Homo sapiens: one gene and its partner. The main gene of each other region encodes a partner of the protein of the gene in region 2 in a complex. Each region holds a gene or a part of one and is shown on either strand. Other genes may lie near its edges.

What was found. Proteins that work in one complex are often made in the same cells at the same time.
Region 1: the proteins of PML (region 2) and SUMO1 are in contact, whole or in part, in a crystal structure (PDB 8DJI), measured with the Homo sapiens proteins. Residues at the interface, in NP_150241.2 of Homo sapiens: Glu554, Arg555, Val556, Val557, Val558, Ile559, Ser560, Ser570, Ser571, Ser572, Arg573; in NP_001005781.1 of Homo sapiens: Gly19, Glu20, Tyr21, Ile22, Lys23, Ser32, Glu33, Ile34, His35, Phe36, Lys37, Val38, Lys39, Thr42, Lys46, Leu47, Ser50, Arg54, Glu84.

What each region holds. Positions count from the first base shown.
Region 1 is NC_000002.12:202,235,044-202,243,154, reverse strand, and holds the start of SUMO1 (small ubiquitin-related modifier 1 isoform a precursor), read left to right. Parts: upstream 1-4,557; 5' UTR 4,558-4,703; coding exon 4,704-4,715; intron 4,716-8,111. UniProt on the Homo sapiens protein: Ubiquitin-like protein that can be covalently attached to proteins as a monomer or a lysine-linked polymer.
Region 2 is NC_000015.10:73,990,093-73,998,337, reverse strand, and holds the start of PML (protein PML), read right to left. Parts: upstream 3,623-8,245; 5' UTR 3,526-3,622; coding exon 3,397-3,525; intron 335-3,396; coding exon 1-334. Other genes in the region: STOML1 (stomatin-like protein 1), read left to right, coding at 6,115-6,247, 7,881-7,987.

The sequences.
Region 1 (8,111 bases), on a different chromosome or scaffold from region 2:
GATGCATCAGCATAGGTTTATCAATTGTAATAATTTATATTATTCTGGTGTGGGACATTGATAGTGTGGGATGCATGTGTGATATGGGCACTGTACTTCCTGCTAAATTTTGTCGTGAACCTAAAACTGCTCTGAAATCAAAGTCTGTTTAGAAGGAAAAACAGTTGAGTATATCATGTGTAGAACACCCCAAGATTTGGAATGGGACATCTAAGGGTAGACTCTTGAGACTAAGAATGAAACAGAACTGGCATGAATTGAAGCCCAGCTTTGAGAATTCTGGCAGGTAGAAAATCTCAGTCCCTAAAATTGGATTAAGGTGACTCTGGGTTCCTAGTGCCCTAGGACAAAACTCCTCTCTGAAGGAAGAAAATATTGTTATTACAGATTATTTCAGCAAAGTTTCAAACACAGTGCCCAGCACGTAATCAAAGATAATGAGGAGATAATGTGAATGAGAATCAAAAAAAGCAAGTGCCTCCAGGGGCTCTAGAATGATCAGAAACAGGATCTAAAATAACCATGTTAATTATTGTTAAGGTATATAGAGAATGTCAACTGAGAATTTGAATTGTTAACAAGGACATAGCAAATTTGAAAAAGACCAATAGAAATTGTAGGACTGAAAAACTATAATACAGATTAAGAATTATATGGGCCGGGCGTGGTGGCTCAAGCCTGTAATCCCAGGACTTTGGGAGGCCGAGGCGGGTGGATCACGAGGTCAGGAGTTCAAGACCAGCCTGGCCAACATGGTGAAACCCCGCCTCTACTAAAAATACAAAAAAATAATTAGCCAGGTGTGGTGGCACGTGCCTGTAGTCCCAGCTACTCAGGGAGGCTGAGGCAGAGAATTGCTTGAACTTGGGAGGTGGAGGTTGCAGTGAGCCGAGATTGTGCCGCTGCACTCCAGCCAGGGCGACAGAGCGAGAATTTGTCTCAAAAAAAAAAAAAAAAGAACTACTGCTGCTCTAGCTTATTTCAGCTTACTCTCCGACCTTCAATTTAGATGTTATTTATGTATTTATTTTGGAAGCTTTTCCTGACTAACTTGCTTGGATGTAGGCTCCCTTAATAATCCTCTTCACCTATTACTAGCAGCTCTTTTCAAGGCCATTGTATTTTTTTTTAATGTAATGGTTTTACTGAGATAATTAGCTTATACTGCTCACCTCTTTAAAATATATAATTTTTAGTATATTCATATAGCTGTGCAACCATCACCAATCAATTTTAGAGCATTTTCATCACTTCCAAAAGGAACTCTGTACCCATCAGCAGTCACTCTCCATTTTCTCCCTAATCCCTCAGCCCTAGTAGGAGGCTGGAGCAGTAGCTCACTAATGTTGCTTTGAACATTAGTGTACATGTTTTTGTTATATGTTTTATTTTTATTTTTAGAAACAGAGTGTATTAGTCTGTTCTCACATTGCTGTAAAGAGCTGCCTTAGACTGGGTAATTCATGAAGAAAAGAGGTTTAATTGACTCATAGGTCTGCAGGCCTAACCGGAAGCATGACTGGAAGCCCTCAGGAAACTTACAATCATGGACCAAGGCAAAGGGGAAGCTATCACCTTCTTCACACGAGAGCAGGAGAAAAAGACTGTGAAGCGGAAAGTACTACGCACTTTTAAGCAACCAGATCTCGTGAGAAGTCACTCACTATATTGAGAACAGCAAGGGGAAAATCTGTCCCCATTATTCACTCACCTCCCAAGTCCCTCCCCCAACACTGGGAATAACAACTGGACATGAGATTTGAGTGGGGACACAGAGCCAAACCATATCACAGGGTCTCACTATGCTGCCCAGGCTAGAATGCAATCATAGCTCACTGTAATCTTGAACTCTTGGCCTCAAGGTATCCTCCTGCCTTGGCCTCCCAAAGTGCTGGGATTATAGGCATGTGCCACTGAGTCTGGAATGGATATATGTTTTCAATTCTCTCGGGTATATACCTAGGAGTGAAATTTCTGGGTCTTATGGTGACTTTATGTTTTACAATTTTGGGAACTGACAGACAGTTTTTCAAAACTTTTTTTTTTTGAGACAGGGTCTTGCTGTGTTGTCCAGGCTATATAGTGCATTGGCTCACAGGCTTGATCATAGCATAGCACACTGAGGCTTCCACCTCGTGGCCTCAAGGGATCCTTCTGCCTCAGCCTCCCAAGTAGCTAGGACTATAGGCCAGTGCCACCATGCCTAGCCTAAAGCATTTTATATTCCTACTAACAGGGTATAAGGGTTCTAATTTCTCCATAGCCTTGTCAACACTTGTTATTTTCTGTCTTTTTGAACATAGCCCTTCTAGTGGGTATAAAGTGGTATCTCCTTGTTTTTTTTTTTTTTTTTTTTTTGAGACTGAGTCTCGCTCTGTCACCCAGTAACAAGCTGGAGTGCAATGGTGTGATCTCAGCTCACTGCAGCCTCCTCCGCTTCCCAGGTTCAAGCGATTCTCCTGCCTCAGTCTCCCGAGTAACTGGGATTACAGGCCTGAGCCACCAAGCCTGGCTAGCTTTTGCATTTTTAGTAGAGATGGGGTTTCACCATATTGGCCAGCCTGGTCTCCAACTCCTGATCTCAAGTGATCTGCCCGTCTTGGCCTCCCAAAGTGCTGGGATTACAGGTGTGAAGCACCACGCCTGATTGTTTTTTTTTTTTGAGACAAGGTCTTACTCTGTTGCCCAGGCTGGAGTGGAGTGGGATGATCTTGGCACACTGCAACATGTTGCCCAGGCTGGTCTTGAACTCCTGGGCTCAAGAGATCTGCCCACCTGGGCCTCCCAAAGTGCTGGGATTACAGGTGTGAGCCACGGTGCCCGGCCTCCTTGTGTGTGTGTTTTTTGGTTTTTTTTTTTGAGATGGTGACCAAAAAAACACAACAACAAACAACAAACAAAAAACAAAACGAAGTCATTCTTTTGCATGTGAATGTCCAGCAGTGGTAGTACCAACTGTTGAAAAGACTGTTCTTTCACCATTGATTTGTCTTGGTGTTTTTGTTGATGTAAATGTGAGGGTTATTGATTTATTTCAGGATTCTCAATTCTATTTGTTTATATTCTTATCCTCCATGAGTATGCCCGTAGGGCCACTGTGTATGCCAGTAGGGCCATTGTGTTTTACAGAAGAAATCTAAGAAGAATCATTCTTTTTTTTTTTTCCATTAAAAGTCATGTTTACTAATCTAGCACCACAATTCGTCTTAGAACCTCCCATGCAGTTGGAAAGGGAATATGGGAAGAGGTGAGTATGTTGGAAATGTAGGGTAGTTCTCAAATTGAGGCCCCATTTTGCTTGCTCTAAAGCCAAAAACACAGGGTCTAGCAAAGAGGAGCCCAGAGGCTGGAGATGAAAACAAAAGCTTTTGGTTCAGATGGTAAAGGAGGCCCTCAAGAGCAGTAGAATCAGTATATCCCGAAGGCAGTGCTGGAGGCATTCTCATGAAGTAGGGGGTTTCTTCTTGGCATCCAAGTCCTTTTTAATTTCTTCAAGTTTTTTAGCCAGGTTTGGTATGTCATAGTTCTGAGCCAGATACATTCCAACCACGTTGCCCAATGTAAATCCAAGCAGGAATTGGAGCATGATGTTGGTGGGGAGGGCGAGGAGGGCGCAAAGGGCTGCTGCAGCTCTGCAGGCCGGTCAGAGCCTGCTTCCCCATGCGAGGGGAGCGGAATCGCCCCCCCCGCCACCTTTTTTTTTTTGAGAGGGAGTTTCACTCTTGTCGCCCAGGCTGCAGTGCAATGGCGCGGATCTCGGCTCACTGCAACCTCCGCCTCCCGGGTTCAAGCGATTCTCCAGCCTCAGCCTCCCTAGTAGCTGGGATTATAGGCGCCAGCCACCACGCCCGGCTAATTTTTGTTATTTTTAGTAGAGACGTGGTTTCACCGTGTTGGCCAGGCTGGTCTCGAACTCCTGATCTCAGGTGATCCGCCCGCCTCGGCCTCCCAAAGTGCTGGGATTATAGGCGTGAGCCACAGCGCCCTGCCAAGAAGAATCATTCTTTAACCTTAACTCAAAGCAACCAATTCAAGGGTTGGAATTACTCACTCCCCATTTAGAACTTTCAGCAGCGGTCTTTAGCATCAGTAGCCGTCAAGATTGTGTTGGGTCGTTGCTTTCTTGTTGTTTTAAATCACGGTCATGTGTTTGGCAAGGGTGCTGGTTAACCGAAAATGTTGGTTCTAGAGCTAGAAGTACTGGCATTCAAATAAACATATTTGGGGGTTGGGGGTTGATGAGCAAGGCTGGGAGGAGACAAAAGAAGTATCTCGGCTCAGTCGTCAGAGACGCGCAAGGTGTAACGGAGAGAGCAATCTAGGTTGTGAGAGTGGCTCCAAACATTGAGACATGGAGCCAGGACCTTTGCTCCTGGGGGATGGCCCTAGTACTGATGCGCAGGACCTGGTCCTTGAAGGAGCTGACAAAACTGCCGTTCACCCGCGCGACCACCGGCAAAGCAGCTCCACAGCCTGCCCCTCCCCTTGGCTGCTCCCCCACCCATTTCCCGCCTTGTCTTTCCTCTCTTCTCTCTCTCCCTCCTCCCTGCGCGAAGCGGAAGTGACGCGAGGCGTAGCGGAAGTTACTGCAGCCGCGGTGTTGTGCTGTGGGGAAGGGAGAAGGATTTGTAAACCCCGGAGCGAGGTTCTGCTTACCCGAGGCCGCTGCTGTGCGGAGACCCCCGGGTGAAGCCACCGTCATCATGTCTGACCAGGTACCGGGCTGGGAGCCATCCAACGGCGGTGGCCAGGGCCTTCCCTGCAGGTCTGCCTGCCGCTAGGCTGGGGTCGGGGATGGAGGCGCGGGGGAGGGGAGCGCGGAATGGGGGAGGGGGCGGCCGGTGGGGACTAGGCAGGCGAGGGAGAGGAGCCGACTACGGCCGGAGGTGCCGGGGCCTGCTGCGGGGCTCCCGGAGCCGCCCGCCCCTCTCCGGGCTCGCTCATCACCCCCGTACCCCACCGCCTTTGGTGGCGGCCTCCCTCATGTCGTCCCACTTCTTTCTCCCGGGTCGACTAGGTGCAGAGCCCCGCTTCCACCTCCCTGGGAGGGTCTCTGGAGAACCCGTCCGTCTCCTTCCAGAGGACTAATCGCAGAAGCAGGGCCCTAGGCCTTAGTTATGTAACGGGAGAGAATCCCTGACTGGGAGGCTCCGTGGCCCTGAGAAGCGGCTGGACTCTCCACTTTTTGCTTCTTCGTCGGGAGGGCGTGGGGCGGCGAGGGAGGGAGACGTCCGATGTTGTTGGGAATCCTGCCTCCGTTCGGATTGGAGCTAGGGCAAGGATGCCGCTGCTCTCCTCTGAGTCTTTTTCCGTGTGGGGGTGCAGAGCTGTCGCCTCTTTACTGTACTTTCCCGTTTCTTACTCGGGATTGGTTCATCCTAGCTCTCCAGTTGTAAGAGAGCATTCATAATAACCAAGAAAGAAAATAGAACTAAACTGCTAGAGCAACAAAAAGCATCTCACCTGGGCATTAACCTGAGGAAGTCTCATATTTTTGAGGAAAAGCATAGGAAAACTTTGTGTATGTAGAGTCGTTGCAGAATATTTGCAGAAAGTTGCCTGGTAAGGCAAAGTGCTCCAGCTCACTGTTAGTATCAATAATTTACTTGGGATTTGCACTTAATCAGGAGTGATCGATTTCCCCTTTTCTTCCTCATCCTGTTCTAATTAAACAACTTTATGGCTAGTTTTTAATTCATAAAGTTTTTGTCTGGTCTTTTGTTTGCTCAGACGACTTTGACTTTTTTTTTTTTTTGAGACGGAGTCTCGCTGTGTCGCCAGGCTGGAGTGCAGTGGTGCGATCTCCACTCACTGCACCCTCCCGCCTCCTGGGTTCAAGCAATTTTCGGGCCTCAGCCTCCCGAGTAGCTGGGATTACAGGCACTCACCACCAGGCACTCACCACCACACCTAGCTAATTTTTGTATTTTTAGTAGAGACGGGGTTTCACCATATTGGCCAGGCTGGTCTCGATCTCCTTACCTCGTGATCCGCCCACCTCGGCCTCCCAAAGTGCTGGGATTACGGGCGTGAGCCACCGCGCCCAGCCGACTTTGACTTTTTACATTATTTTTGGACTTTTACTCATTTAATGGTAGTTATTCAGAAAACTATTTTTCATTCAACTCCACGATGTACTTGAACTTTTAAATTTAACACACCTATTCCCTTGGCTTTTAACCCAGTTTTGTACCATTTCGTGAGAGCAAGTGAGGTTTTTGCAGATTGGTACTATTGTACAAAATGTACACTTAACATTTTAAAGCTTAACCATAATCTAGATGAATTTTGGATGGATCTACTTACTAATAATCTAGATTAATTCCCAAGTGGGCATTGTGTTTCCCTAGGTAGTTGTTTACTTGGTTACTAGGAAGAAAAGTATAGGCGTAAATGCTTAGTTTCGTCAGCCTTTTATTTTGTTTCCCAGAAGCGTCTAGGAAGCATTTTGAAATTTATTGTAGACTGATGGAAGAGCAACATAAAGAAATAATTATAAAATGTAGAATTTATTGCTCCATTTTGAAGTCAGGTTATTTAAGAGATACATAAAGAAATGAAGGACCTAGGATACAAATAGATTCTTTTATTTCATGTTCATACTAGGACATTATTTGTCTTTTTCACTGTCATTCTTTCATGAGTGTTCAATGGACGTTTCTAGAAACTAACATGACTTGTGATAAAACAAATTAAATGTGGAAGCAGATGTGAAAATCCAGCTGTTTAGCTGTTTTTATTAAGCCAGACATTAAAGAGATTTGCAAAAATGTGTAACAGTCCCACTCTTTCATTAATTTTGTTTTGAAAAATATTTTTAATAAAAATATATATTTGTTAACATATAACAGGTTTGTTGGTATTTTAAAATGAATTAATATTTAAGACATTTCTCAGTTTTCAGTGTTTAATACTGTAAACATCAATAGATGTAACCAACCTAACAAAAGCTTTATGGGATTCTAAATAAATTTAAGTGTAAGATTCCTGAGAACAAAAAGTTTGAGAACTGTTGCTGTAGGCTGATTGACCAACATCATTAGGACTCGCCGGGTGCAGTGGCTTAAGCCTGTAATCCCAGCACTTTGGGAGGTCAAGTTGGGTGGATCACGAGGTCAGGAGTTCTAGACCAGCCTGACTAACATGGTGAAACCCCGTCTCTACTAAAAATACAAAAAATAGCCAGGCGTGGTGGTGCGCACCTGTAATCCCAGCTACTCAGAAGGCTGAGGCAGGAGAACTGCTTAAACCCGGGAGGCGGAGGTTGCAGTAACTGGAGATCACTCCACTGCACTCCAGCCTGGGCGACAGAGTGAGACTCCGTTTAAAAAAAAAAAAAAGACTCAGTACATTGGCCGGGTGCAGCGCCTCACACCTGTAATCCTGGCACTTTGGGAGGCCTAAGTGGGGGAGGATTGCTTGAGCCCAGTTTGAGACCAGCCTGGGCAATATAGAGAGACGTCGTCTCTACAAAAAATAAAATTAGCCAGGCATGATGGCCTGTACCTGTAGTCCCAGCTACTCAGGAGGTTGATATGGGAGGATCACCTGAGCCTGCGAGGTCGAGGTTGCAGCAAGCCAAGATCATGCCACTGTACTTCAGCCTGGGCGATAGAGACCCTGACTCAAAACAAAGAAGACCCAGTACAAGTTCAGTGTTGAGTGCTAAAGACTTAAAAGAGTTATAAAGCTGAACCCTTAATCTTAAGAGGTTTATAAGTGAGAACAAGAATCTCCAAATCCTGTACTGTTTAATATCAGCATGAGACTAAACCACTGTCCTAAGAAGACAACCTTAATTTGAATCAAGTTATTTTAGAGTGATGTGTTTTCTGAGGCAGCTCTCAGAAGGTTATTGTCTGGTGTTAAAATAGTGAAATTGAGTAATAACAAGGTTAAAATCGGTGGACATTAAATACACACAAGACTTCAATTGCTGGGTCCTCCATTGATTAATGAAAAAATGATTGTTTTTGGAATTTGAGTGAAACACTTCTTAATGGCTGAGTAGGGTGGCTTACGCCTGTAATCCCACCACTTTGGGATCACTTGAGGCCAGGACTTTGAGACCAGCTTGGCCAACATGAGGAAAGCACGTCTTTACTAAAAAT
Region 2 (8,245 bases):
GTGCCTCGAAGCACTTGGCGCAGAGGAGCTGCTCGCACTCAAAGCACCAGAAGTCGGCCGACTCTTTGCAGCGGGTGCACACAGCCTGCGCATCCACAATCTGCCGGTACACCGACAGGCGCCGCTGCAGACTCTCGAAAAAGACGTTATCCAGGGCGGGTGTGTCTGCACCTAGGGGCCAGGGCGCCTGGCAGATGGGGCACTGCATGCCCGACGCCTCCAGGCATCCTGAGCACAGCGTGTGCAGACAAGGCAGCAGCTTCGGGCACTTGGCTTCCGCCTGGCATTGCTGGCAGCGCAGAAACTGGAACTCCTCCTCCGAAGCGGGGGCTCGCTGGGGGACCAGAGAGGCAGGTGAGGCCTGGAGAAGTCCCAAAAGCCCCCACCTACCGGCCAACCACCCTTACAGCTGGACCCTGGAGTAGGACCTCATATTCCATTCCAGCCAGTCATTGGATGATGCAAAACCCTGGCTTATCAGCACCCCAATACCCCCATTTATTCAGGCCCTCCAGCTCTCACTGCACCATTTATTGAGCATCTACTTCTCATCACCCACAGTAATAGGCTCTGAGATATAAGAGGTGTAGGATACATTCTGCCTTCAAGGAACTCAGTTTGGAAGGTAGATACACTAAGTACCAACCTCATATAAAGTGCTTAATGCACAGTTTGGGGGTTCATTAAAGAGGTAAGCATGGAACAACAATATGACCCAGAAATTCCACTCTTAGATATATAACCAAAAGATGTAAAAACAAGGCCCAAACAGATACTTGTACAACAATGTCCACAGCAACACTATTCACAATAGACAAAATGTAGAAACAATCCAAGTATCCATCAACAGATGAATAGATAAACAAAATGTGGTCTACACATATAATGGAATATTACTCAGCGTTAGAAAGAAATGAAATTCTGATACATGCTACAACATAGATAGACCTCAATGACATTATGCTAAGTGAAATAAGCCAGTCACAAAAGGTCAAACACTGTATGATTCTGAGGCAGGAGAATAGGGTCTGGAGGCAGGGAACCTAAGGCCGATTCCCTCTGACTTCCTAGAACTAAATCGAAAGGAAAACCGCAACTCTCCATGCCTCAGTAACAAAAGGAAGAGAGGCTACTCTCTTTGCAAATCACCCCATTTCCTGCAGGGCAGATGGAAAATTGAAAGTACGTCTGGTTGGTTGCTTTCTGCAACCAATGGGGTGAACACCAAGTGGCCAATGGGAAACCTCTAGGGGGTATTTGGAACCCAGAAGATTCTGTAACTGGGGTCCTTGAGCCCTGCTCTAGCCGCTCCCACCCTGTGGGGTGTACTTTCATTTTCAATAAATCTCTGCTTTCATTGCTTCACTCTTTCCTTGCTTTGCTGTACATTTTGTCCAATTCTTTGTTCAAAATGCCAAGAACCTGAACAATTTGCAGTCAAGATCCTCTACTGGTAACAATTCCACTTACATGAAATATCTAGAATAAGTAAGTTCATAGGGACAGAAGGTAGATTAGAAGTTACCAAGGGCTAGGGGAAGGAGAAAATGAGGAGCTATTGCATTACTGGGGCTCAGGACACACCACTTCAAAGTATGACTGCAGGAGGCTCTTGAAATATACTTCTTTGGCATATTTTAAGCTGGTTATTCTGAGAAACTGCTGATACAGGAATAGCTCTGAAAAGCTCTCCTTTTGTAAAAAAGAAAGGCATTTATATCTTAAAAGAAAATCTACATTAGTAAAATGATCTATATTAAAAGAGGGCTGCTCCAGACAACTTTTATTATCTAAGAACTTTTAATCTACATAGCAAGACAACCTCTATTCACCAAACAGCTCCTCTCCTCACCCTCCCATAACTTGTGTTATCACCATCACCCAGAAGCTCCAAGCTCTTTTCCGTAGCTCAGGATGTTATACAGGCTTCAATCATCTGACCTTTCTTTGAGTCTCATATATTGTGGGACTCCTGAGTATACATATGTAATTAAATATGGGTTTTCCGCTGGTAATCTATTTTATGACTATTTAATTCATAGGCTATTTAATTCATAGCCCAGCCAAGGAAACTAGAAGGGTGGAGGCAAGCCATCTTTCCCTCCCCTATGGTTTAAAGAGTACAGAGTTTCTGGAGTAATGAAAAAGTTCTGGAAATAGATGGTGGTGATGGTTACACAATATTGTGAATCTACTTAATGCCACTGAATGGTACACTTATAAATGGTTAACATAGGAACTTATCCATTAGGTATATTTTACCACATTTTGTAAAATACAAAAACAGGCCGGGCATGGTGGCTCATGCCTGTAATCCCAGCACTTTGGGAGGCCGAGGTGGGTGGATCACGAGGTCAGGAGTTAGAGACCAATCTGGCCAACATAGTGAAACCCCATCTCTACTAAAAATATAAAAAATAGCCAGGTATGGTGGCGTGGCCTGTAATCCCAGCTACTCGGGAGGCTGAGGCAGGAGAATGGCGTGAACCCGGAAGGAGGAGGTTGCAGTGAGCCGAGATCGCACCATTGCACTCCAGCCTGGGCGACAGTGTGAGACTCCGTCTCAAAAACAAACAGATAAACAAACAAACAAAAAACAAAGCAAAACAAACAAACAACAACAAAAAAAAACCAAAGTGCTTAATACAGTACCTGGCACATTTGAAGTGCTCATAAATGTTACCTAGTATTGTTAAGTAATGTTATTCTTAGTTGTAATAATGTTTATAAAAGTTACTGTAATACGGTGTCCTCTGTACTTTCATGAAGGGGAGTAAAAGGGCCTGAAAGGCAGCAGAGCAAGAAACCCAAGTAGTTCCTTTGTCGGGGGAGGTGGGAGGTGGGCAGGAAAGGTGTGGCAAGAGAAGGGTTCGTTGGGGAGGCTTCCTTAAGCAGAAACCACATGAGCTGGGAGGCCTTGGCAAAGATACCTCTTCAGTCTGAGCCAGTTTCTCACCTCGGATCTGGGAAGTTGGTTTTAGTTTTGCCGTGCCTGGGACATGCCCCTGGCTCCAGGCCAGCGCAACAGGGGTACTACCTCCATCCTCCCTAATCTGAAGTCCTGCATCTGAGGCAAAGTTGAGGCAGGGCTCGAGGGTGGGCGGAAGGGCCCAGGCCCGGAGGCCACTGACCCTTCTCACCTTGCCCAACTGCTCAGTGGAGAAACCGCAGCCCAGCGAGGCCGCCCCAACTCCTCCGTGTCCTCTTTTCTACTCTATCCTACCCTCCCTTCCCTGCCCCACCCGAGACGGTCAGGACCCTGGTGTCTGGACTTCCCGCTTTGTGTCACTCTCTAGGGTACTTGACCAAATCCTCCGTTAGACCCTCTCTTCCCGCCTCTCCCCACCACAGCAAACCAACAAAGCTTAACCCCATCATCCCCTAACCCAATAGTACCTCTGTAGGGCTGGGGCTGGGGCTGGGCTGGCGGCCTTCAGAGGGGGTCTCGGGGGGAGGCATGGTGGGCTCCTGGGGCCGGGCGGGGTCCTGCTGGGGCCTCGGAGATCGGGCGGGTGCAGGCTCCATGGACCCCAGCTTAGTTTCGATTCTCGGTTTAGATCTTGGAGTGCGTGAAGAGAAGCTGAAGGGGAGGCGTGAGCCAGTTGGCTGAGTCCCTTGAGCTGTCCGAAAGGGGAGGTGCCGGCTCAGGGCCCGCCTCTGGAGAGGAAGTGAGACAGAAGCTGGGGGCGGTTCTAGGGGGCAGAGAGGCCGACTGTGGGTTTTAAAGACACGCCCAGAGCGGGGAGGAGGTAGAGGCGGAGAGCTGCAGACCTACCGCTGACTTACGGTAAAGCGGGAGAGGTAGGGCAGAGCTGCAGGGGGGCAGCCCTGCTCCCGGCTTTGATCCATTCATCCGTTCACACTGGCACTGCTTCGTGCCACGTCCTGCCGGGAGCTGGGCGTACAAAGATGAGCCACACGCAGCCCCTGCTTTCTAAGAGCCGTAGATGTAATGGAAGAGCAAGCCTGCAAACGGAGACATTCTGGAAAGGAGAGCCCACAGCTGGGACCTGCAAAAGCAGTGGAAATTCACCAGGGATTTAGGGTTGTAGGTGGTGGGGTACGGGGGACACTTGAAACAGAAAAGATAGCTCTTGCAAAAGCCTGTTTGGGAACTAATTTTGGCCATTTTCAGATTTAAGAGGGAATTCATGAGAAATGATACCCAAGGAGTGTGCTAGGACAAGATCCTAGCTGAGGAGATTGAACCAGTTCTGTGAGTGATGGGAAGTTGCTGAAGGATTTGGAACCAGGGAACAACACGATCAGCTGTGCATGATGGGACAGTCACTCTGACAACCTAGGAGCAGGTGCCCTGGTCTAGGACAGTGGCTGTGGGATGCAGAGGAGGGACTTGATTCAGAGATCCTGGGAAGCCAGTGACTGGAGGTGAGGGAGCAGGATGATGCCTTGAGTGACAGCTGGAAAGGCTGGTGGATCTGAGGTGGTGGGGGCAGGAGGGAGGGGGAGAGCTGGAGAGCGGGTATGAAGAGGGTGAGGGGAGAGCCAGCTAGGTCTTCGCCAATGGAAAAGCATGTCAGACTCCCAGCTGGTAAGGGGAAAGGGGCACAGTTCCAGGTGACCTCACTGGGTCAGCGCCCCGGCTTCAAACTTAAACCATCGCAACCACTGTGCTGGCTCCTGTGTACCCATTCCGTACTCTGTTCCAACTTAGAAACAGACTAGAAAGGATGATGATAGGGCCTGGCTCTTGTAAACCTTACAGTCTGCAGGGTGGAGAGCAGGGGTTGGGCAGATACGCAACTTCCTAGGGACTGTAAGGCCTCAGGAGCCTGCCCTTCCCTCCAGCCTGGTCAGTACTCCCAGGCCTTTAGAGAATCAGTCCATGAAAGCCAAATATGGTGGGCAGCCATCTGCACAAGGGACCTGGAAGTGGGCTATGGCAGGATGGGGCTTCGGAGGCCAGAGGCGATTGGCTGAGGAGGCAGAGCTGGGGAAGCTTTATTCATTTCTTTGCTTGCTTTGGAAGATAGCCTGCTCCCAGACTACCCCAAAGTCCTGTTGGAAGTTAACACTTCTCAAAGGAAATTCACGAGTTGCATTCAGGTTTTCTCAAGCCCTGGAGAGGCAAGTTAATTCCAGGTACCTGGATCAAGGGGCATGCTCTTTCTGGACCTGCAGGACTGAGGGCCTCACCTCTGTGGTGCTCTGGGGCCCCTGCCCTCATGTAGCTCTGTGCTATCCCCTTCTTCCTTACACTCCCATGCTCCCCGAAGTCTGCATGTGAAACTTCTTTCTTTTTGTGCCAAAGTTCAGGCCTTCCTACTCCACCTTGATCACGGTGACCTGGCCAGGCCATTACTTAACAAATAAGTATTGAGACCTGCCCTATGCCAGTCCCTGCTTGCTGGGCTGTGGGTTCACAAAGAGGAATAATTTGCAGACTATGTCCCAGAGAAACCCAAAGTCCAGATATGGCATGTCCTGCCTCCAGTGTGAGAGAAGGAGTGCTGAGAAGGCTGATATAGCATGTCCTTGATCCTGGAGAAGATTGGCTTCCTGTAAACCCTGATGAGATCTTGCTCTCTCGCTCCGACTGCAGTGCAGTGGCACGATCATAGCTCACTGCAGCCTCAAACTCCTGGACTCAAGAGATCCTCCCGCCTCAGCCTCCCAAGTGGCTGGGACCACAGGCAGGCATCCCACGCCAGGCTAATTTTTAAAAATTTTTTGTAGAGATGGGCTCTCACTATGTTGCTCAGGATGGTCCTGAATTCCTGGCCTCAAGCGATCCTCCTGCCTGAGTCTCCCAAATTGATGGATTATAGGAGTGAGCCACCGTGCCCAGCTTCCCCTCCAGCTTTTCTAGGGCTGAGTAGGAGAAGAGGGGAGGAGGCGATGACCCCAGCGGGGTCCGAGGAACGCCGATCACACCCAGTAGCCCTGGGCTGCAGTTCGGTCCTCCCAGCGCAGGGGGAGCCATGCGACGGCGGAAGCGGGCCCCGGCCGGCCTCCTCTTCCTGCGCCCGCGCCGCCGCGGGTGGCCGCGCGGGTGAAGCCGGAAGCAGCAGCCAGGAGGGCGGGGCCGCGTAGGGCCCACTGGCCAGGGAGGGCGCCGCGCGGAGGCGCGGGGCGTGTCTCCTGTCAAAAGCCATGCTCGGCAGGTCTGGGTACCGGGCGCTGCCCCTGGGTGATTTTGACCGCTTCCAGCAGTCGAGCTTCGGCTTTCTGGGCTCGCAGAAGGGCTGCTTGTCCCCGGAGCGGGGCGGCGTGGGGACAGGGGCCGGTGAGTGGCCGCCTGGCACGGCGGAGCCGGGGGGGACCGGCCGGCAACCCCCAGGCCCGAATCTCTGCCTCCGAGGAGTCGGCCGGCCCGGTGCCGTCGCACCCTACGAGGGGGGACTGAGAAAGGGATACGATGTGGAGAGGGGGCTGGACCCGGCGCCTGGTGCTAGCGCCGATCCGCCCTCCCTAGGGTCATGGGGCTTTGGCCCCAGAGCCAGCCAGCGTTGCTCCTATCTTCCAAAACCTCACCTCACCACATTTGTCCTCGGCTCTTATCAGCCCTTTAGGCCTGGGAAGACGTTTCAGGTTTCTATTTCGCATAGAAGAAACCGAGGTCTAGGCAGAGGAGGCCACCAGCACCCTAAAGGCACCTGCTGCAGGGAAATGGAAGAATTTTCGCCCTAGGGGGCACCTCTAGAAGCCCGGGAACTAGGCATCTCCTGGATGTGCAGGCCAAAATGACAGGTCCTCAGCTGCCTGTTGGATCTGCCCTGCTTCTGTCTTGCCCTCAAAGTCTTCTGTGGCTCCTTTGGCCTACAGGCCAGATCCCACGCTGTTCAGCCTAACCGCCTAACCTTGGATTTGATCCCTCCCTGGCCTTCCTGTCCTGAAAGCTCTCCCTATCCAGAAGTCTCTTGAGAGGCCTGGTGGATCAGAGCCAGGCACAAAGTGGAGCCTCAGTGCTCTGGGGCTTAGCCCAGAGGGCAGGGCTTCCTGGAAGAATGGAGCAGGGCTCCCGACTGCTTCCTGTCCAGGGTTGGGAGGAAAGCGGCAAATAACCTCATCCCAGATTCTGGAGCTGTCTCGGCTTTGCTCCCAACTTGGGCTCCTGAATCTCCAGGGGCCAGGACATTTGGCTTGGATAAGCCTCATCTTTCTAGCCCTGCCCCTGACCCCGACCCCTAACAATTTTCTTGAATTGAAATAGGCAGGGTTTTTTTTTGTTTTTGTTTTTTGTTGTTTGTTGTTTTTTTGAGATGGAGTCTCGCTCTGTCCCCCAGGCTGGAGTGCAGTGGCGCCATCTCGTGAAATAGGCATTTTTTAATGGTCATTAAGGCATTAAAGTTGGGTGTGGAATAGAAAATAATAATCTAATTCCTCATCTGTGGCTCCCGTTGATAAGCTATTTATGATTTATCCCTGTAGGCTAAGGCATCATCTTCATAAGGACTCCTGGAAAGCACACTTCTGGGGCTGATGGTATAGGAGGAATGTGTTTTGCCAGCAGTATTCAGTGCATGTTTACAGATGCCCAGGTGCTCCTGGCTCCATGCCAGGTATGGGTAGGCAATATAAATTAAACGAGAGGATTGACCCCTACTCAGTCCAGTGAGGAGAGCATCATCACGCGGACTGGATTCTGAGATTGAATGGCTGTTGCCTAGCAGAGAATAAGGCCTTGTGAGGGTTGTTGGACTTGGGACAAATGAGTGTTGATGTATGGGAGGAGGGAACAGACCCTAACTTGCAGCTGCCCAAAGATACGGGAATATTAGGCAAGGAGCCAGATTGAGAGCCCTGAGAAGGAAGGAGCCTCTCGAGGGGAAGGTGGGCGTAAGGTACACTTGCCCAAGTTCACTCCGCTTGGCAGCTGTCGTGCAGGTCCAGTTGACCACCTCTGCTCTCACCTGCAGATGTACCCCAGAGCTGGCCCTCCTGCCTCTGTCATGGCCTCATCAGTTTCCTGGGGTTCTTGCTGCTGTTGGTCACCTTCCCCATTTCTGGCTGGTTTGCCCTGAAGGTAAGGCTGGCTGGGTCAGCCCCCAGGGTGGTTGGGCCACACTGAGAGCTTTGGCATTGATGAATAAATTTGCCTATCCTCTGTCCCCTTTCCCTAAATATTATTACCCCTTTGTGTAATGGGCTAGGCAAGAACCATTCATTCACATTGGTCAGGGGAGGAAACTAAGGCTTGGGCTTGTCTAAAGTCATACTGGGAGCCAGTAGGGGGTAGAAGCAAGTCCCAAACTCCTAAGTCCTGGGATCTGGACACTGGCTT